Regions from separate parts of the Homo sapiens genome. Here region 2 is linked to region 1. Evidence: fine-mapped expression QTL. Tissue or cell type: ovary. Region 1 holds a variant in brackets; the other region holds the start of a gene. All regions are shown on one strand. Distances are from middle to middle.

What was found. PIP is the estimated chance that this variant, and not a neighbour inherited with it, causes the effect.
Region 2: TESPA1 starts here. The variant in region 1 is fine-mapped to the expression of TESPA1 in ovary (GTEx, PIP above 0.99).

The regions. Positions count from the first base shown.
Region 1 is chr12:54,943,340-54,954,463 of GRCh38, reverse strand. TESPA1 (thymocyte expressed, positive selection associated 1) reads left to right here. Exons shown (of 11, transcript NM_001136030.3): 11 at 4,074-6,449. It also overlaps the pseudogene LOC105369778. Among named protein-coding and RNA genes, the nearest start is that of TESPA1, 36 kb to the left of the region's middle. The variant CA/A (reference allele first, on the strand shown) is at 5,375.
Region 2 is chr12:54,978,741-54,989,710 of GRCh38, reverse strand. TESPA1 (thymocyte expressed, positive selection associated 1) reads left to right here and starts at 4,949. Exons shown (of 11, transcript NM_001136030.3): 1 at 4,949-5,126. LOC107984515 (a long non-coding RNA gene) reads right to left here and starts at 4,860. Exons shown (of 2, transcript XR_001749161.2): 1 at 4,746-4,860.

The DNA of each region.
Region 1 (11,124 bases):
AATGCAGATAAAGATTATCTTTCTGCCTTCCACAGCCAAAGAAAGAATGAGACAGTATAGATAAAGGGAAGACTGAGGAAGAGAAAAGAAGATACAGAAGTGTTATTTTGTCTGTGGTTTTGCATTTTGTGATTTCATTTACCTGAAATCCATTTTATACTTGAATGGGCTCAAGAAAAGGACTTAGCAAGATCATGCAACTAGTTAGTGTCAGAGCCAGAACTAAGGCCCAGGTCTCCTGAGATCCAAGCCAAGGCCGTTTCCATCAGAGCATATGGCCCTGATTGAGCAGAAGTTTAGGCTGTTACTGTGGATCAGGGCAAGCCTCGCTACCTGTACTTGGATCTGAGCTTCATTTACTGTGTGCCTTGACCCTTTATGCTAAGTACCAATACTCTCACTACCTTTGTCACCACTGAAATGTACTTGCCTTCTTATAAAGTCACCAGCAAGAGAAGCATTATACAGAATAAGCAGAAATGTTCACAGGATGCTTTGAGCTCATAGTTTAGTGAAAAACATGACAAGAGAATCAGTAATTATTAATAATTTTCATTAAATGCCATAGGGACCAGAAATTAACCTTTCAGAAGATGGCATTACTTTTTTTAACGATGTGTGTTGGCAAAGATGTAGAGAAGGTAGGCCGGGCACGGTGGCTCACGCCTGTAATCCCAGCACTTTGGGAGGCCGAGGCGGGCAGATCACGAGGTCAGGAGATTGAGAGCATCCTGGCTAACACGGTGAAACCCCGTCTCTACTAAAAATACAAAAAAAATTAGCCAGGCGTAGTGGCGGGTCCCTGTAGTCCCAGCTACTCGGGAGGCTTGAGGCAGGAGAATGGCGTGAACCCGGGAGGCGGAGCTTGCAGTGAGCTGTGATCGTGCCACTGCACTCTAGCGTGGGCGACAGAGCGAGACTCCGTCTCAAAAAAAAAAAAAGTAAATAAAAAAAGATGTAGAGAAGGTAAGTCTGGACAGATGTGTCCAACATTGAACAGGGAGAAGGTGGCTGAGGAGAGTAGAAAAAGGAAAAGCAGAATATTGATATTCTAGGCAGAGAGAAAGGTAAGTTCAAAGACAGATGAATGGAATACCACAATATCTTATGGAAACTACACCTTATGCCTAGTGGGAGAAAGGGGATGTGCTGGAGAAAGATCAAAACTGAAAATAAGAAAGATAAATAGAAAGGAAGTTATAAAACAGAGTCTCCTATGTTATTTTAAGTGTTTTGGTTTAGTCTAAGGTAGGAATCCACTGAAAAATTTACAAAGGAAGTGATGTGATTAGATTTGTCTTTTAGAAAGATTATTCTGGTAGAAGTATGGGAGATGGACTGGGTAGGAAGCCGGCAGAGTAAGGAAAATAATTTAAGAATCTACTGCAGAAACCTAGGGAGAAATGTGATGATCAGAAACAAGCTGAAGGCAGTGGGAATAGAGGGGAGGACGAGTGAGATTTTGAGATATTCAGGAGGTAAAATATCTAAGCCAGGACCGATTAGACTTGTGTTTGGGGAAGAAAAATGGAATAAGGAACAGAAAGAAAGATAGGGCATACAGGTTTCCTCTTGGGCAACTAAATGGATGTAAATATCATTTTATTAAGAATGAAGTAAAAATAGGAATAACAATTTGGAAGGCAAATATATTAAAGTATAATTTTCAAAAAGGTAAAATAATGACTCTCATGCAAATGTAGATAAACATGTTCAAAGACTTTACTCAATTCATTAATTACTGAAGGCACCAGCAATATGCTTGACCTGGTCCAAAGACTATTTGAGAAGTCAGTTTATACAGAGAGAGAATTTAACAGATTGCCATATTAGATACAAAACTGGTTAATATCCAATAACAGCATAAACTTTATCTCTGGGATTACTGGTTCCACTGGATGGAAATTATTTGCATCTCTACCCAACATAAATCACTAAGGTAATCTCTGCTCTTGCAAAACTATAAAATAGCAGTGTAAATAGAAAGTCAAGATTAACACTGTACTGAAAGAGTATCTAGTCATCTTGTTTGACTATTTAGAAAAAGCTGATGAGTTCATATCTGAACATGGTGAGTGTAAGGTACTTCTAAAATACTGTGATAAAGAGGTTCATGTCTTCATTGGTTTCTGTTGCTATAATAGAACATTACAAACTAGGTATTTTACTTTATAAAAGAAATTTATTTACTACAGTTCTGGGAGCTGGGAAGTCCAAGGTTGAGGGACCACATCCGGTGAGGGCCTCCTTTCTGCATCATAACATGGCAGAGGATATCACATGGTAAAAAAGCAAGAGCATGCCATCTCAGGTCTCCCTTCCTCTTCTTATATAGCCAAGATTCCCATCATGGGGCCTCACCCTGATGAGTTTATCTAATCCTAATTTTTTCCCTAAGACCTCACCTCTTGATACTATCACGATGGCAATTAAATTCCAACATGAATTTTGGAGGGCAAACTCAAACAACAGTCCATAAGGCAGTTTGGATAAAGGAATCTAGGAATTGAGCTTTTTGGAGTTCAAGGCTTACTTATAATAGGTGACGGCATGAGGAAAGATAGTTCACCCAAGAAAGTATGCAGAATCAGAATCTGAAGTAAAAAAAAAAAAACAACTTAGAAATATTAATATTTAAAGTTTTATCAAGGAACAACGTATATAAAGGAGCAATATTGATTAGAAAAAGGTTGCAAATAGAAACCAAGTGATGTTTCTCTCAAGAAGGAGGGTGTAGTCTTCAGTAACATTTACCATAAAATATCCAATAGGAAGGAAAATGCAAAGATACCATTGTATTTGTGACTAGATAACAATTACTAACCTTGATAAGAATATTTTTATTTGGGTGACAAGGCTTTAAAATATTAATATGAAAAGTGAATAAGAAATGTTGAAAAGAAAGTAGGTAAATAATTTTTTTCTAGGATGGTGAAAGTTTAAGCATACAGTAAATATTTCCCTGGAAGGAAAGAATCAATAGAATGGGAAAGGCTATGGTTTAGGAGGGAAGGAATTGTATGAGTCTCTTCTCACATTGCTGTAAGGACCTAGCTGAGAGTGGGTAAAGAAAAGAGGTTTAATTGGCTCATGGTTCCACAGGCTGTGCAGGAGGCATGGCTAGGGAGACCTCAGGAACTTTCATTCATGGCAGAAGGGGAAGGGGAAGCAAGCACATATTCACATGGTCAGCAGGAGAGAGAGAGAAGGGGGAAGAGCTACACACTTTTAAACAACCAGATCTCATGAGAATTCACTCGCTGTCATGAGAACAGCAAGGGGGAAATCTGCTTCTGTGATCCAATCACCTCCCATGAGGCCCCACCTCCAACATTCAGGATCACAATTCAACATGATATTTGGGTGGGGACACAGAGCCAAACTATATCAGGGATGTTAATGGTGTGAAGTCACTGAGAACTGGGATGAGATGAGATTCAAGGCACTTTTGGAGGGTGTAGCTAGCCATAAAGTAGTGTGACAGATATTTCTCTGAGATTAAAGGGAAAAAAAAATGGAAAAAAATTTTAAGTGTCAATATGGTTATATTGGTCATCTGGAGAGGAAGTCAAGAAAAATTCTGCCTATTTCTTTCTCTCTTTTTCCTGTGGGGTCATTACTAAAAAGTGTGAGTCAGGAAAGGAATGGTAAAAATTTGAGAATTCTACTATGTAGAAAAAACAAGAGAAATACTTATTAATAGAAAATGCATTGCTAGTTGAATAGGTGAATAATGTTAGGCTCATTTCAAGGTGCAGAACATGAATTGATAGTGGTTTAGTGATATTCTCCAACAGTGTTCAGCAATCCATACAAAAAAATAAAGGTATAAATGTATGCCTTTATAAGTATTAAACAGTAAGAGGTAAACTCTTGCAGGAATCTCACCTCATGATGAAAAGAGCAGAAACCCCAAGTCACATGACTCTTTGCTGCTGCTGCTAATAACTTTAAATGTCACTTATAATACTGAGAAACATTTCCACAGCTGAGGTATGAAAGTTCCTACCAACCTCAGTACCCAAAGTTGTTTAAAAAATGCATGATATGTATCTTTTTTATTCCCATTGCAGGCTTTCTCCACCACCACAACAGCATGTGGTCTGACAGAATTGGCTTCAAAGAAGAAACTAAAAGCCACCTCTTGCAGGAAACTGCACTGCCCTCAACATCCAGCCCCTACTCCTTGGTCCTCCAAACCCCCAAACTCTGCAGGAGAAAGGCAGCATGGTACATGGGGAGGAAGACCAGACTGAGCGATTTGGAATCCACATCCTAATGCTGCCACAAGCTGCATGCACAAAGACCTTAGGCACATCTCTTCATTTCTCTGTACACTGGTTTCTCTACTATGTGTGTATTAAAATATATAATGTGGATGATAGTAAACTGAACAAAGCCTTAATTTTCTCCCAAGCTTTGACATTGCCAAGGGCAGTTAGGAGACTTCAGGATCAAGTTTAGGGGACAAGTTTTTTTCTAATACTTTCAAAAGGCCCAAGTGAAGAGAGGAAGGACACCTCACTTTCTGGCTCTAAAAGCATGGTACATCTCACACTAGGATTCCCTCTGCACCTCTGTTCATCCCTGTATTCCTAACTAAATTCCAGAAAATCTTCTACAACACTGGAGTCCTATTTTTCTTCTTGAGACCTCCTTTGAAGAAATCAACTTGGAGACTCCTCCTTAAATCCAGTTTCTTTCTCTACCCAAAATTTTGCATCTTTATAGAAAAAGAGATAAGTAGGATTCAGAGTCTCTTCTCCTAGCCATTGTGGGGGGAAAAAATGCTATTTCTGTTGGCAGAAAACAATACAAATATTTTTTTTAAATCATGGCATGTTTTTAAAGTTAACTAACAGCTGTAGTTTGCTTTGGAAGTTAAATGTTTTGTCAATAAACAGGGCTTGAGCACATGCAGTGCTCTCTTAGGCAGTATGTGGTTTCAGAGCATCTTGGACACATTTCTCCCCTGAGAAAATATTAATATTAATAGAATGGGAGAAGTAAGATGCACGCATTTCCAGAAGTATATTATTTGGCTGCCTAATAAATTGTGAGACAAAAGAAAAAAAAAAAAAAAACAGGAAGAGAGGGACTTGAGGGAATTTGAGGGAAATCATAACCAAAAGTTTAAAGGAAAAAATTACACCAGACATGATAAGCAGAAGTTGATTTTGTTCTGGTGCTATTGCCAGCATTAGGGGAGAAGGCACAAACTGAGTCTGATACGTAGTGAGGCAGAGACAAAAGGGCTAGGGTGGAAAAATTTTTAAACCATCTGTGTTTACTAATTCCCCATACCAAAAGAACAAAATGAACTTTCTCCTATTTCATGATAAAAGATAGTTTCACAATTTGGAAAAAGCCCCCC[CA/A]CTCCAAGTTTCCTACCCTTCCCACCCACAGAAACCAGGAGACAGGGGAACTATCTTCCTTGATGTTAACATTTCAAAGAGGTGGTTCTCAGGTCCTAGAGAAAGATATTCCTGAGTTGTAAAACTGGGAAGAGGCTGGAAGAAGATTTAGATCTCAAGAAATAGAAAGAACTACAGCAAATTTTCTAAAGCAAATATTCTTAAGGGAGGTCAAGGGCCTGAAGTCAGGAAGAAACCTATTTGGTCAAGCTGAGGGGAAAGTTAAGGCTATCTTGTCACAAGAGAACAGAAATATCTGACAATATTTCATTTAAAGAACTGTATTAGTCCATTCTCACACTGCTATAAATAAATACCTGAGACTGGGTAATTTATACAGAAAAGAGGTTTAATTGGCTCACAGTTCCGCAGGCTGTACAGGAAGCATGGCAACATCAGTTTCTGGGGAGGCCTCAGGGAGCTTTAACTCATGGTGGAAAGCAAAGTGGGAGCAGGCATCTTACATGGTATGAGCAGGAGGAACAAAGGAAAGGGGAGGTGCTAACACTTTTAAATGACCAGATCTTGTAAGAACTCACTCATTATACAGTACCAAGGGGAGATGGTGCTAAACGATTAATGAAAACTCTACCCAGTAATCCAATCACCACCCACCAGGCCCCACCTCCAACAATGGGGATTACAGTTTGACATGAGATTTGGGTGAGGACACAGATCCAAACTGTCAGGCCTCTGAGCCCAAGCTAAGCCATCATATCCCCTGTGACCTGCATGTATACATCCAGATGGCCTGAAGCAAGTGGAGAATCACAAAAGAAGTGAAAATGGCCTGTTGCTGCCTTAACAGATGACATTACTTTGTGAAATTCCTTCTTCTGGCTCAGAAGCTCCCCCACTGAGCACCTTGTGACCCCCACCCCTGCCTGCCAGAGAATAATCCCCTTTGACTGTAATTTTCCACTACCTACCTAAATCCTATAAAACAGCCCCACCCCTATCTCCCTTTGCTGACTCTCTTTTTGGACTCAGCCTGCCTGCACCCAGGTGATTAAAAAGCTTTATTGCTCACACAAAGCCTGTTTGGTTGTCTCTTCACACGGACGCCCGTGACATTTGGTGCTGTGACTTCGATCGGGGGACTTCCCTGGGGAGATCAATCCCCTGTCCTCCTGCTCTTTACTCCATGAGAAAGATCCACCTACGACCTCTGGTCCTCCGATGAACCAGCCCAAGGAACATCTCACCAATTTTAAATTGGGTAAGCGGCCTCCTTTTACTGCCTTCTCCAACCTCTCTCACTATCCCTCAACCTCTTTCTCCTTTCAATCTTGGCACCATCCTTCACTCTCTCCCTTCTCTTAATTTCAGTTCCTTTCCTTTTCTGGTAGAGACAGAGGAGATGTGTTTTATCCATGAACCCAAAACTCCGGTGCCGGTCAGGGACTTGGGAAGACAGATTTCCCTTGGTGTTTAATCACTGCAGGGACACCTGCTTGATTATTCACCCACGTTTCAGAGATGCCTGATCACCGCAGGGATGCCTGCCTTGATCCTTCACCCTTAGTGACAAACACCAGTTTCCTAGGGTGCAAACACCCCCCCACCCCTTCTCTCCGTGTCTCTACCCTCTCTTTTCTCTGGGCTTGCCTCCTTCACTATAGGCAACCTTCCACCCTCCATTCCTCCTTCTTCTCCCTTAGCCTGTGTTCTCAAGAACTTAAAACCTCTTCAACTCACACCTGACCTGAAACCTAAATGCCTTATTTTCTTCTGCAATGCTGCTTAACCCCAATACAAACTCAACAATGGTTCCAAATAGCCAGAAAAAGGCACTTTCAATTTTTCCATCCTACAAGATCTAGATAATTCTTGTCGTACAATGGGCAAACGGTCTGAGGTGCCTGAGGTCCATGCATTCTTTTACACATGGGTCCCTCTCTAGTCTCTTTTCCCAATGTGACTCATCCCAAATCCTCCTTCTTTCCCTTCCACCCTTCCCCTCAGTCCTAACCCCAAGCATCACTGAGTCTTTTCAATATTCCTTTTCTACAGACCCATCTGACCTCTCCCCTCATCCCCAGACTGCTCCTCCTCAGGTCGCTCCCCACCAGGCTGAATCAGGCTCCAATTCTTCCTCAGGCTCTGCTCCCCCACCCTATAATCCTTCTATCACCTCCCCTTCTCACACCCAGTCCGACTTACAGTTTCTTTCCCCGACTAGCCCCCGCCACCTGCCCAGCAATTTCCTCTTAAATCGGTGGCTGGAGCTAAAGGCATAGTCAAGGTTAATGCTCCTTTTTCTTTATCCGACCTCTCCCAAATCAGTTAGTGTTTAGGCTCTTTTTCATCAAATGTAAAAACCCACCCCAGTTCATGACTTATTTGGCAGCAACTCTGAGACGCTTCACAGCCCTAGACCCTGAAAGGTCAGAAGGCTGTCTTATTCTCAATATGCATTTTATTACGCAATTCATTCCCAACATTAAATAAAGCTCCAAAAATTAGATTTTGGCCCTTAAACCCCACACAGGTCTTAATTAACCTTGTCTTCAAGGTGTACAATAATACAGAAGAGTTGCAATTACTTGCCGCTGCTGTGAGAGAAACTCCAGCCACATCTCCAGCACACAAGAACTTCAAAACGCCTAAGCCACAGCAGTCAGGCATTTCTTCAGGACCTCCTCCCCCAGTATCTTGTTTCAAGTGCTGGAAATCTGGCCACTAGGCCAAGGAATGCCCACAGCCTGGGATTCCTCCTAAGCTGTGTCCCATATGTGCAGGACCCCACTGGAAATCGGACTGTCCAACTCACCTGGCAGCCACTCCCAGAGCCCCTGGAACTCTGGCCCAAGGCTCTCTGACTGACTCCTTCCCAGATCTTCTTGGCTCAGTGGCTGAAGACTGACACTGCCCACTTGCCTCAGAAGCCTTCTGGACCATCACAGATGCTTTCGGTAACTCTTACAGTGGAGGGTAAGTCCTTCCTCTTCTTAATCAATATGGAGACAACCCACTGCACATTACCTGCTTTTAAAGGGCCTGTTTCCTTTGCCTCCATAACTGTTGTGCGTATTGACAGCCAGGCTTCTAAACCTCTCAAAACTCCCCAACTCTGGTGCCAACTTGGACAATATTCTTTTATGCACTCCTTTTTAGTTATCTCCACCTGCCCAGCTCCCTTATTAGGCCAAGACATTTTAACTAGATTATCTGCTTCCCTGACTAGGCTACAGCCACACCTCATTGCCACCCTTTTCCCCAGTTCAAAGCCTCCTTCAAATCCTCCCCTTGTATCTCCCTACCTTAATCCACAGGTATGGGACACCTCTACTCCCTCCCTGGCAACTGGTCACATACCCATTACTATCCCATTAAAACCTAATAACCCTTATCCCACTCAATGCCAATACCCCATCCCACAGCAAACTTTAAAAGGATTAAAGTTTGTTATCACTTGCCTGTTACAGCATGCCCTTTTAAAGCCTATAAACCCTCTTTACAATTCCCCCATTTTACCTGTCCAGAAACTGGACAAGTCTTACAGGTTACGTCAGGATCTGTGCCTTATCAACCAAATTGTTTTGCGTATCCACCCTGTGGTGTGAAACCTCATATACTCTCCTATCCTCAATACCTCCCTCCACAACCCATTATTCTGTTCTAGGTAAACCTAGCTGACCCCATAGATCCTAAATCCTTTCTCCACTCCCCTATCCATTCCTTAAAAAACAGCTCCCACACTAGCTCTCCCTAACTTATCACTCCCTTTCCACTACACACAGCTGAAGTGCAGGGCTGTGCAGTTGGAGTTCTTACACAAGAGCTGGGACCACGCCCTTTAGCCTTTCTGTCCAAACAACTTGACGTTACTGTTTTAGCCTAGCCCTCATGTCTGCATGTGGCAGGTACCACTGCTTTAATACTTTTAGAGGTCCTCAAAATCACAAACTATGCTCAACTCACTCTCTGCAGTTGTCATAACTTCCAAAATCTATTTTCTTCCTCACATCTGATGCATATACTTTCTTCCCCCCTCCACTACCTCTCAGCAAGCCGAACTCATTGCCTTAACTTGAGCCCTCACTCTTGCAAAAGGAGTACACATCAATATTTATACTGACTCTAAATATGCCGTCCATATCCTGAACCACCATGCTGTTATATGGGCAAAAAGAGGTTTCTTCACTACACAAGGGTCCTCCATCATTAATGCCTCTTTAACAAATAGTCTTCTCAAGGCCGCTATACTTCCAAAGGAAGCTGGAGTCATTCACTGCAAGGGCCATCAAAAGGCATCAGATCCCATCACTCAGGGCAACACTTATGCTGATAAGATAGCTAAAGAAGCAGCTAGCATTCCAATTTCTCTCCCTAACTGCCAGTTTTTCTCCTTCTCATCGGTCACTCCCACCTACTCCCCCACTGAAACTTCCACCTATCAATCTCTTCCCACACAAGGAAAATGGTCCTTAGACCAAGGAAAATATCCCCTTTCAGCCTCACAGGCCCATTCTATTCTTTTGTCATTTCATAGCCTCTTCCATGTAGGTTGCAAACCGCTAGCCCATCTCTTAGAACCTCTCATTTCCTTTCCATCATGGAAATCTATCCTCAAGGAAATCACTTCTTAGTGTTCCATCTGCTATTCTGCTACTCCTCAGGGATTGTTCAGGCCCCCTCCCTTCCCTACACATCAAGCTCAGGGATTTGCCCCTGCCCAGGACTGGCAAATTAATTTTACTCACATGCCCCAAGTCAGGAAACTAAAATACCTTTTGGTCTGGGTAGACACTTTCACTGGATGGGTAGAGGCCTTTCCCACAGGGTCTGAGAAGGCCACCGTGTTCATTTCTTCCCTTCTGTCAGACATAATTCCATGATTTGGCCTTCCCACCTCTATACAGTCCAATAACAGACAGGCCTTTGCTAGTCAAATCACCCAAGCAGTTTCTCAGGCTCTTGGTATTCAGTGGAAACTTCATACCCCTTACCATCCTCAATCTTCAGGAAAAGCAAAACAGACTAATGGTCTTTTAAAGACACACCTCACCAAGCTCAGCCTCCAACTTAAGGACTGGGCAGTACTTTTACAACTTACCCTTCTCAGAATTCGGGCCTGTTCTTGGAATGCTACAGGGTACAGCCCATTTGAGCTCCTGTATGGATGCTCATTTTTATTAGGCCCCAGTCTCATTCCAGACACCAGCCCAACTTGGATTGTGCCCCAAAAACTTGTCATCCCTACTATCTTCTGTCTAGTCATTCTTCTATTCACCATTCCCAACTACTCATAAATGCCCTGCTCTTGTTTACACTGCCGGTTTACACTGTTTCTCCAAGCCATCACAGCTGATATCTCCTGGTGCTATCCCCAAACCACCACTCTTAACTCCCTCTTAAAGTAAATAATCTTTGCTGGCAGGGCACCCTCCAATACTTTCACCCTGATGAAGTCCTATTCTTTACCTTAAACTCACTCTTATTCTCGTTTCTGTTCTTATGCCACCCTCTACCTCTCCCCAGCTATCTCTACCACACTATCAATCTCACTCACTCTCTCCTAGCCATTTCTAATCCTTCTTCAACAAACAATTGCTGACTTTGCATTTCTCTTTCCTCCAAAATCGCCAAGGCCCCGACTTACTGCTAAAAAGGGGGGACTCTGTATATTTTTTAATGAAGTGTTGTTTTTATCTAAATCAATCTGGCCTAGTATACGACAACATAAAAACTCAAGGATAGAGCCTAA
Region 2 (10,970 bases), 35 kb before region 1:
AATACATTTGGGAAATACAAAACTTTCTCCTTCTAGGAGAGTCACAATTCATGTTAATCTATTAAAAGCCTCAAGAAGTTATGCCTTAAAGCAGGGGGCCTCAACCCCTGGACCACAGACCAGCACAGTTTGGTTGCCTGTTAGGAACCTGGCCTCACAGCAGGAAGGTGAGTGGCAGGCATGATCATCTGAAGTGGAACAGTTTCATCGCCAAACCCTCCCCCTCACCCTGCTCCCATGGAAAAATTGTCTTCCATGAAACCAGTCCTTGATGCCAAAAGGTTGGGGACCACTGCCTTAAAGGAACATGTTTGTCTTTTGTTAACCCTGTATTTCCCCAAATTACTTGATCATACTAGAAAATAAGCCCTCTAAGGGACAGTATTTGATACTGTTTCTCCCCCTTGTATATCTTCCTCTCCTTCTATACTCCCCTCAGTCCCTTCCCCAGATCTATCTCATTTCTGACACTCAGAAGGTATCCAATAAAATACATTTTGGGTAGAATTACAATCCAGATCACTGAAAGAACACCCTCTGCAGAGGCCTGAGATGGATTGCTCTTCTGTTTTGCTGGACTCTTACAGAGGGAAGATACAGCCAGACAGAAGGAAGAACTTTCTGGCATTGAGTGGAGTAATTTAGTAGAATGGGTAGGTTAGAAAAGTTAGAGAATCCCATTTGTTTGTATCCTTAACAACCAGAACATAGAAGCAGAGAAAAGAACAAGATGACCTTGGTGGACACTTTTCTGCCTGGAGAAAGTTCAGAAAATCCTTGGTGAGTTAAATCACTGCTCTCTCCCCTACAATTCTATCCACTCTCTCTTTCTACTTTTGAGCCTTTGGTACAGGAAGGAGACAAAGTCACTCAAATTCCCACATCAGCAATTTGGAGGAACAGACTCTTAGCAAAAAAAACAAAACAGCCAAACAAAACAAAACAAAAATGGCATTTGCAAACCCCAGGATCTGAGAAAGAAGAAGGTTGAGAGCTGAAATGGAGGCAGATGATTTGCATCTGGGCCTGGGCAGAGGGGCCCAGCTGCTCGGCCCAGAGCAGTGGCTCTGAGCAGCAGCTTCTCTGTCTTGGGACAGCCTCTATGGACAGCTGTCCTGGCTCTGCCCCAGGTCTGGGCAACCTGCCAGCTCAGCCTGTAGTTCTGCAGCTCCAGAACTTATACTCACTACAGCCCATCTGTTTGATGGGCTCATCAGTGTTCAGAAATTGTTCTTATTTATCAGTGTTATCAGGTTACATGTCTAGAGGATAATATTATTCAAAAGCAATATTTACTTGGCTTTTCAATGGAAAAGAGTCTTTCAAAATACTTTTTCTAATACCTTTATAATAATTTCTTACCAAATATCACTTAATATTTTCATTTTCCATAATAAACTACATGCAGTTATAAAAGGGTAGAGAAAAATAGTCTGTACAGGTGTTACTGACATCTAAAGCCAAGAGGATCTTAGAAAATATTTCTCTGTCAGAAGGTGATACCGATATCCAGTGAAATTAAGTAACTAGTATAGTTTTAAACTCAGATTGCTCTTTTACCCCTAGTTCAGGGTTTTTACTAAATTCTATAAAACACAAGAGAGGGAGCCATGGAATGACAAATAGGCCCTATCATGAGGCACCAAACTGCTGAATCACATAGGCAGTAGAGAGCTAATTCATTATCTCAGTTAGCATAAGGGTTTTTATTTTTAACCAAGGGAAAAAAAATGAACAAGCTCACAAAAAAACCTTCAGAAACCCTGAACTACTGCGTCTCGTATAAAAAGAACAAGTCATTTTGTTTTCATGAAGCACCTGGAATATATGCTCAGAGAAGTTCATGGTGCCAAAGATATAGAGACAATGTTTTCAAAGGGTGGGAAGGGCAGGTGAGAGGGAAAAAAGAGAAAGGGGAAGGAGGAAAGGAGGGAAGGAAGGAAAGAAGGAAGGAAGGAAGGAAGGAAGGAAAAGGAATGGAAGGAAGGAAGGGAAAGAAGGAAAGAAACAAAGAAAGAAAGAGAAAGACTATACAACTGAGAAAGAAGATAAACAGAGGAATACCCTGGGCCGCCTCCTCCTCCTAGGAATCATATAGTCTTCATCTTTGTCTTTCAGAAGCTGCTTGTAGAAGAGAAAAATATTTCTTTCAAAAAATAAATCACAAATACTATAAACATATAAACCTACATATGTACTCATAAAAATTAAGAATAAATATAAATAAAAACCAAAAATTAATACATCTTTTTTATTAACAAAAAAATCTCTAGCAATTGCTTGTGAAATGGTATCTTTAATGAGTGAGGTAATTTTGACAGATAGACATAGTATTCTGCAGAAACTGAAAATATTATATTTCATGCAAATCAAAACCACAATGAGATACCATCTCACACTACTCAGAATGGCTATTATTAAAAAGTCAAAAAATAAAAGATGTTGGCGAGGTGGCAGAGGAAAAGGAATGTTTATACACTGTTGGCGGGAGTGTAAATTAGTTCAACCCTTGTGGAAGACAATGTGGCGATTGCTCAAAGACCTAAAAACAGAAATATCTTTAGACTCAGCAATCCCATTACCGAGTATATACCTGGAGGAATATAAATCATTCTGTTATAAAGACACGAGCACATGTATGTTTGCTGCAACACTATTCACAATAGCAAAGACATGGAATCAACCCAAATGCCCAGTGATGATAGACTGGATAAAGAAAATGTGGCACATATACACCATGGAATACTATGCAGCCATAAAAAAGAATGAGATCATGTCCTTTGCAGCAACATGGATGGAGCTGGAGGCCATTATCCTTAGCAAACTAACACAGGAACAGAAAACCAAATACCGCATGTTCTCACCTATAAGTGGGAGCTAAATGATGAGAACACATGGACACATAGAGGGAAACAACACACACTGGGGCCTATGGGAGGGTAGAGGGTGGAAGGAGGGAGAGGATCAAAACAAATACCTATTGGGTACTAGGCTTAATACCTGGGTGATGAAATAATCTGTACAACAAACCCCTATGACAGGAGTTTACCTATGTAACAAACTTGCACATGTACCACTGAACTTAAAATAAAAGTTAAAAGAAACTATTATATTTCAAGAGTCTTAAAAATAGCTGCAATTTCTTGAGCATTTGCTGTAAGGTAGGCGCTGGACTGAATACTCTGTATTCCTTTATTCTTATAGCTCTACAACCACTCCTGTAAGGTTATCCCCATTTAGCAGCTAACAAACTGAGACCTAGAGATGTTAACGTATCCAAGACTACAGAGCTACTTGATGCCAGAGCTTCACTCTAAAGCCTGCTCTCCTAACCATCAAACTATCAATGTTAACAAAATGTTGACATTTGGGCCAGGACAATTATTCCTTATACTGAAGAGTCCCATCCCTTCAAAAGCACTTATCATCATTGGCCCTCAGGTACTAAATACCAGTATCAGCTTCCCATTTCTTTGAAAATTAAATCTCTCTCACATATTTCCAAACTCCCTACCGAAGTTATATTCTCCATTTCCCAAACATATTGGAAAACAACTGTTAAGGAAAACATTGAATTCTAGAAACTTAGGATTTAAAAGAGTTGTTAAGTTTCCATTAGTTCAGCTTTTATAGTTAATTTGTACGGAAAAGAATAGTAAATAAAGAGAATTAGGGCGTGTTGGATTTAGCATTTTACTTGTTGACTGTGAAGCTAATTCTCAGAGAAGCACATATTTAGCATCTACTATGTCCTGAGAAAATATGTTAGATATTTTCATGCCTACGTAAAAGGAATAGCGTGGGAGAAGGGTTGAGTGAGAAACAGAGAGAATTGTTATTTTCCTCACATTATACTTGAAGAAAATAATGTTTTGAGAACTTAATTTGCCAAGCAAGAATTTTATTTAGGATTATTTCTACCATATTATAGCTATACTATGGATACTCAATGGAGTTGTCCCATTGATGATTGGAAATGGAATTTAGAAACATGGTAAAAAAAAAATCTAACTATACCTATAGCCAAAAAATCAGAAAGAAGGTAATGAACATGTGAAAATCAGTCACAATTAACACATTAGAGGAGTGCCTTGTAGAATAAATATTGTGATATACATTCATAAATAAATGATTTAAAGAAGGAAACAGTAGAATCAGGAGAGAGACAGAAAGAAGATATCCAAAATGCAGCAGCATCCTACGGAGAAGAGTGTTCAGAGATACTGGAGAAGCGAGGAGGGATAGTTAGCAGTGCTGGATGCTCCCGGTGGGTGAAAGTGATTGAGGCCTGGGAGAAACCTTTTAGAGTTCAACAAGCCTTTTCCAAACTGAAAACCAATAAACTGAAGACATCTTCAGGGTGTAACCGATTTTAAAAGTTCAGCTTTGAAAACGTTGGGGAAAGCAGTCATTTACTACAAAAACAAAAACTTTGAAGTGGTTTGAACATAAAACAAAGTTAAGAAACTAACAGAAAAAAAAAGTAGTCAGTATTCAAAAACAAGCTTCGGGGGAATTTACCAGAGTATGAAAGTTATCAACACAGAGCGACTGGCTCAGAGCCCTCTCAAGTGTGTGATACGACTGGAAACTTCTTCTCTGAGATAAACGCCAGATCATTTATGAGAGAGAGCTTTCCCATTTTCAGACAGCTCTCCTGAGGACAGAAGGATTTATCTGCAGCAGTGGAATTCTAGTTATATGGTAGGAAGACTCCTGCACACACCTCTTTAAATGGACTGTACCTTTGCCTTAATAGGAAAAGATCTCCTGTTTTTCTGGAAAGACAGAGGCAGCTCTGGGGCAGGAAGGTCTTCCTAGTTGTGAGCACCGTGTCTACGGATGGTTTGTCCTTCGCTCAGTCTCCTGAGCCGGAGCAAAGGATGTGGCTGGGCCAGGAGGCGGGGACTGCATCTACATGTGTGGATGTGTGTGTGTGTGGTGTGTTCTCATTTCCGCTTCCCCTTTTGAGCAGGCAACAGCAGTTGAATGAGTTCAGGGAGAAAGGCATAATCTACAACATGATACTTTCTCACTTGCTTCACCTCTGTGCCCACACCTGTGAAGGCCTCGGCCCAGCTTCGACAACTGCTTTGCCTCAAACTCAGCTTTCTACCAGCAGACAGGTAAGCACAGCCTTTATCTCAGTTTCAAGGCTGTACTGATTTAGGGTGATGCTAGGAGAAAGAAGGAAACATGTCAGAGAAAAATCAGGCTGTCAAGTCAAGGGAAAATCAAGAGAAAATCTCCCACCACTCTTACTTCAACCTTAAAAGCATCCATCATTATGCCTAGGAGAACGATGCTGGGTGCCCTTTTGCTTTCGTTTGTTTGTTTTCTCTTTATTATCAGAGAGGTAATCTTTCTAGATTCTCAAAACTTGGGTCTCTTTGATGACTTGAATAACATTTTAGGAATTTTTTTTCACCTTTCTCACCTGCAAAGTTCTTCTCTGTGTCTTGCTGAACTCATTGTTGCTGCAATTTCCATCTGATTATAACATCGAAAAGTTCTCAAGGAAGAAGTTTCCCGGTTTCATTTCAGGCCCTACTCTAGTGTCCATAGCTCCAACCATTGAGAGTACCTGGCTGAAATCAACTTTGCTTTCTGTGGGTATGACCTCTTTCTTCAGAAGCTGTAGAAGAAACTTGTTGAGATAAACTGCAGCAAGATATATTGAGGTCAGCTACGAGGGAGGATGTACACACTTGAGTGAGGTAAGGTCAAATTCACCGGGAGGCTCAAGATAGATGGATAGCCACCATCAGGACCAGATTTCAGGGTTCACATCTCAAAGATAGATAGATGGATGTGTTGCCTTCTCAGTGACCTACATAATATTGGGGGCTTCATGCTCCTCCAACACCCCTTGCCCCAGTGGTAGCAGGCAGAGCATATCACCACCTACATGAGTTTTGGGGTAGATGGAGGAGTGGAAAGATCCTCCACCCTGGGGTTTTCCCATGCCCCTTCTGTGCCACTAAGCTCACCAGTGGGTGGAAGAAAAAGGGTGGGTCCCCAGGGCAGGGCAAGGACAAGAAAGGAGAGTTCCACAGAAGTGATTTGACAAGACTGTGAGCATTTACAGGAGATATCCAGGGAAGTACTAGTGACTCTGTATACCACAAATGGTCCTGAGTAGAGAGGTAAGGAGACTTTCTAGATGGTGCAGGGCAGTACCTAGGATGGGAGGTTGGAGGTAGGAACCTTCAACTTGTGTGTCCAAGTATCAGACTCAATAGTTGTTCAGCTGAGTGATTAGAGATAAAGATCTCACAATATTGTCTTGCAGCATGAAGTGTTAGTAGGAAGAAGGGAAGTCAGGTTTATTGTCTGTCTCTACTTGGACTATTATCAGAAATAACAAGCTGAAGATATAGCAGAAGGGATAGAAAGCAATTTAACATCTGAGTTATTCGCATGCACCCCAGGGTGTTTAGAAACCATTTACAACCACGCTACCAACATGTTCTCATAACTCTTGGGTTTTTTGAAAATTAAGATGGAACCCTGCGATTCAGCATTATGTAGTGAACATGAAGCCCCAACCGTCATTTTCAGTTCAATGTTTGATTTGGATTCTAGTATGGAGGTCTCGTCTCAGCCAATGCTGTGACTTACAAGATTCCTTCTGGGCTACAGTAAGGGGAAAAGATCACACGTTTATTTCCACCTGCAAACTGACAACTGTTCTCTTTTCCACCTAAGGCACAAGACCAAAGTGGATATTCCAGTACCCACAGTACTGTGTGCCTTACAACACCCAGGCCTGATGCAGAATGGCCTAAACACAGATTTCAGATTGAGAAAAGAGTTCAGTCAAATAAGTAGAGGGACGAGGAGAAGAGAGTGTGTAGATATTGAAAAAGAAAAGCAGGAAAGAAGAAAAATGAATATATGCAGGACAGAGCTTATTACCAAGGAAATGAAACTGAAGAATTAAAGATACGAATTCACAGAGCTAACACAATGGTTGAGAAATCTGCTCATTCTCCCTACTTTCTCTTGATGAAGCCATCTATAAATCAGCTCAGATAAACTGCTGTTTCTTATTCTTGATGTCTTTATTGCCCATTCAAATGAAGATATTTGATGTCTCCCTACATTGAGAACAAGCGATTAATTTTTTTTCCAAATCCACAACTTTAATATTTCCTGTAGCAATTATACAAGCCTTTCTTAAAATTCATATCCTAAAAGTGGAAGTAAGGAAGAAAGGGAAGGAGAGGAAAAAGGTCTTAGATGGTCTTCTTTCAGTATTTATTCAGCTACGCTTATTTGTGGGAGAAAGAGTATGAAAAGGGAGGGGAATAGGAGTTCTATTGACTAATGGGCATTTTTTCTTTCTGTTATTTACCAAGTAACATCTCTCCTTTTCCCCGAACAGATTGAACTGCTCCTTAGACAATAGAAGTCTCAGAATGCTCAAATATTATACTCAGGGAAATTCTTGTTCTGATGATCTTCCAACCTGAGTGACATGGAAGAGGGTTAGGAGCTAGAAGACAGTTCTATGAAGGAATGTGAGAATTTGTTGCAGATTGGGGTATGTCAAATGGGGGACAATCCACCTGGGTTGAGGTGGAGTTTGTCCAGTTCATGAACAGAGAAATGTTAGCTACTCTGGGATTTCCCGCAGCTCTGCGATGGTAATGATGTATATCTTGGCTGTGGATGCAGAAGGTCTTATGGGCCACATCATGGAAACCCCATTTCCTTCTTCTCTCCTCCCACACTGGTTCTCACTCTCAGTCTCAACTCACAGGCACTGCTTGGGGCATAGGTACAAAACAGACAGAAGAGAAGAGAGGTCTGTCTCATACATGTCCCCTAGAGCACTAAAGGCAAACCTGGGACTGGGCCTTGGAAACCAAGTGTGGCAGGAGGAAGGCTGTATGATATAAAGGAAGAAAGCATGCATCTGGAACTCAGAACTTGTGAGTTTGGTTCCCATTTAAAACCACTAATATTCTTTGTGACTCCAGGCAAGCCTGCTTCTCCCTCCCTCTCTCTCTCTCTTTCTCCCTCCTTTCTCTCTCTCTTCAGTTTCCTCAACTACAAAATGAGTGAACAGGATTAGGTAATCTCTCTGGTCCCTTTGGGAATTAGGTAAGAAAGAAAGACTTTTTTTTTTTAATATATTATACTTTAAGTTCTAGGGTACACGTGCACAATGTGCAGGTTTGTTACATATGTATACATGTGCCATGTTGGTGTGCTGCACCCGTTAACTCGTCAGTTACATTAGGTACATCTCCTAATGCTATCTCTCCCCCCTCCCCCCACCCTAGGACAGGCCCCAGGAAAGAAAGACTTTTCATTGCTTACTTTTTATCTCTGCTTAACACAGATTTAAAAAATCTTTTTCACCATCTTGATTTTATACTGTCAACTGTACCCTGCAATTCTCACCTTCTTCCTTCCTTCTTTCCTTCCTTATTCCTCAAGATGTTTCAACTTTAGTGAACATCTTAGACTGAGGGGAGATTCATAATCATAATCATATCTATCACTTATTAAGCACCACCTTTATACATCAGGGACTTAATATGTGTTACCTGATTACAACTGCCAATCACCCAACTAGTTTGGCACAGTATCTATTTTATGAAGAAAATTAGGTATAGACTAGGTGTGGTGGCTCACACCTATAATCCCAGCACTTTGGGAGGCCAAGGTGGGAGGATTGCTTGAGGCCAGGTGTTCAAGACCAGCCTGAGTAACACAGCAAGACAAAAGAAAAAGAAAAAGAAGAAACTTAGGTATAGAAGAAAAGATAGTGTTACCAAGGACAAATATGCAGAAAGCAGACAGAACTATGATTCCAAATTAGGCTTACTCTGATTCCAAGGCCCAAACTCTTTCTACAGTTTTCCTTTTCTTTAATTTCTAAATAACACTCTGAACTTTAAAGAAAAAGAAGCATTGGTCATCCTTACTGAGCCCCTTGAAAATTGCCCCATGGTGAAGTATCTGTAAGCAGAGCTGATATTTGTCAGGTGCAAACTGGTAGGCTAATAGTTGCTAAAATATTAAAATATGTCTACTAATGATAATTATCCACTTTCCCAAGCCCTCTGAGTGCCCATGACCAGCCCAGCTATCCCAGCTCTTTCCTCAAGACTCCCCAGACAGGCCCCAGAAATTCAAGGCCACATCAGCCATGTACCGGGCGGGGCCCCACCACAGGGCGGTGATGGTATCAGCTCTCATTGCTCTGTGGTGCCCCAAACCGTTATGAAATATTCTGAATGCCACAACAACCTGAAAGTAATGCGGAATTCCAGGCAGATTCTCTCCTCCCAACTAGAAGTTAGGTGGGCCCTTGCCAAAAAAACCACTCTGTAAGCCTGAGGAAGGCTAAACTGCTTCATAATCACCTAGCTGGAGTCAGAAAGGAAATTATTCTAATAACACAAACAAAGCAACACTTCCTGCACTAAGACTGTCACAGAACCAAATATAAATTACATTGTGTTTATGGTGCTTCTTCTCTACTAGACTATAAGATGGAGAGCTTACATAGATGCAAAATGGAGAATTTACTAAAATAACTTCTCCTTTTTTTTTAATCCCAAATTACATTGGATGGTGACATTGGGCCATTTTCTTATTCTAATGTCAGTGGAAAAACTATATAACATGGAGTCAGACCAACTTGAGTTTAAATCTCAGCACTACAGGGATGTGGCCTTGGACAAATAACGTATCTCTGTGAGGGTCAGGTAACCATAATCAGCTCTAAAGTGGTTGTCAGGATTAAGTTAAGCAGTTTACAGGAAAGTTTTATGGATAAATATGCAGTACTCTATACATTTCAGTTATTATGACTACCTACCTTTGACTTGCCCGTGTCAATGTGTAGTGAATCCCCACCTGCTTCCCTGGGAAAACAGAGACTAGAAATAGGCGATATTCTTCGAGTCATAATTATGACATACCTCTACAGGTTTTCTGCCGCTGCTACAGTTACTGCCTCTGATAATAATTTTTGTTGGAAGATACTCATTTCACAGCTCTTAACTCCCTCATCTTAAACCAGTGGAGGATATTTCTCCTGTCTAACCTCAATCCTATCTACTACAATTTCTGCTTTTAACTATAGCATCCTCAGAACAAGAATTATATCTTACTCCACTTGGCTGAACCCAGATTCCAGAACTCTTGAAAGATTGTGGAGAAGGATTTATGGAATGAACGTCTAGAGAAATGTAGAAAAGAGGAAAGAACAAAAGGCTGGAAATGGTAGCAGAGGGGGGACATGAGGGTTTGGGCGGATTCAGGCAAGAAGCAATAGTACCACTGTGGGAATTTCTTAGTTTCATGGGAAAATTGGAGAACAGATATCTACAGGCTTTATATTTCTATCCTCATAGAGAAGACTAAATATGATCACATACTATAAGCAGCATCAAGAGAGATGATAGATGAACTCCAGAAGGAAATTTTGATGAAGAAGTGAATAAAAACTTGAAATGAAAGACTCTGGAAAATATTTTTTTTAAATAGGAGAATTTGGTAGTTCAAGCTTCATAAATTAAGTCAGACTTGGGTGACCTTATGTTATGTCAACAAAGGACTGGAAAGACTATGCTCCAAGCCTTTTTCCTCTTCACTAACTGTGCAAAAATGTACATTAGGATCCAAGGCCATGAGGACAGTCAGGAGCACCCGTCCTATGACGAATACTAATTGGGGATAATTTCCCAGTGCCAGGGTGATTCTTGCTCCTCTGCAGGTACAGCACTTATGGAGTCCCTTCTTTTGCAAAGTACTGTGCTATGTTCTATGATGGGTTTAGGGGAGAAGTTACAAGTAGTGGTGAATGATGACAAGAGAGGTAGCCACTTACTGTCTTGTTGCATATGGCGCAGGCATGGGTGTTTGTTGCTACAGGTAGGACAGAGAAAGGAGATGACTTAAGTAGGCCCTTAAAGGGTAGAAAGAATTCGTTTGATTAGAGAGGAAGG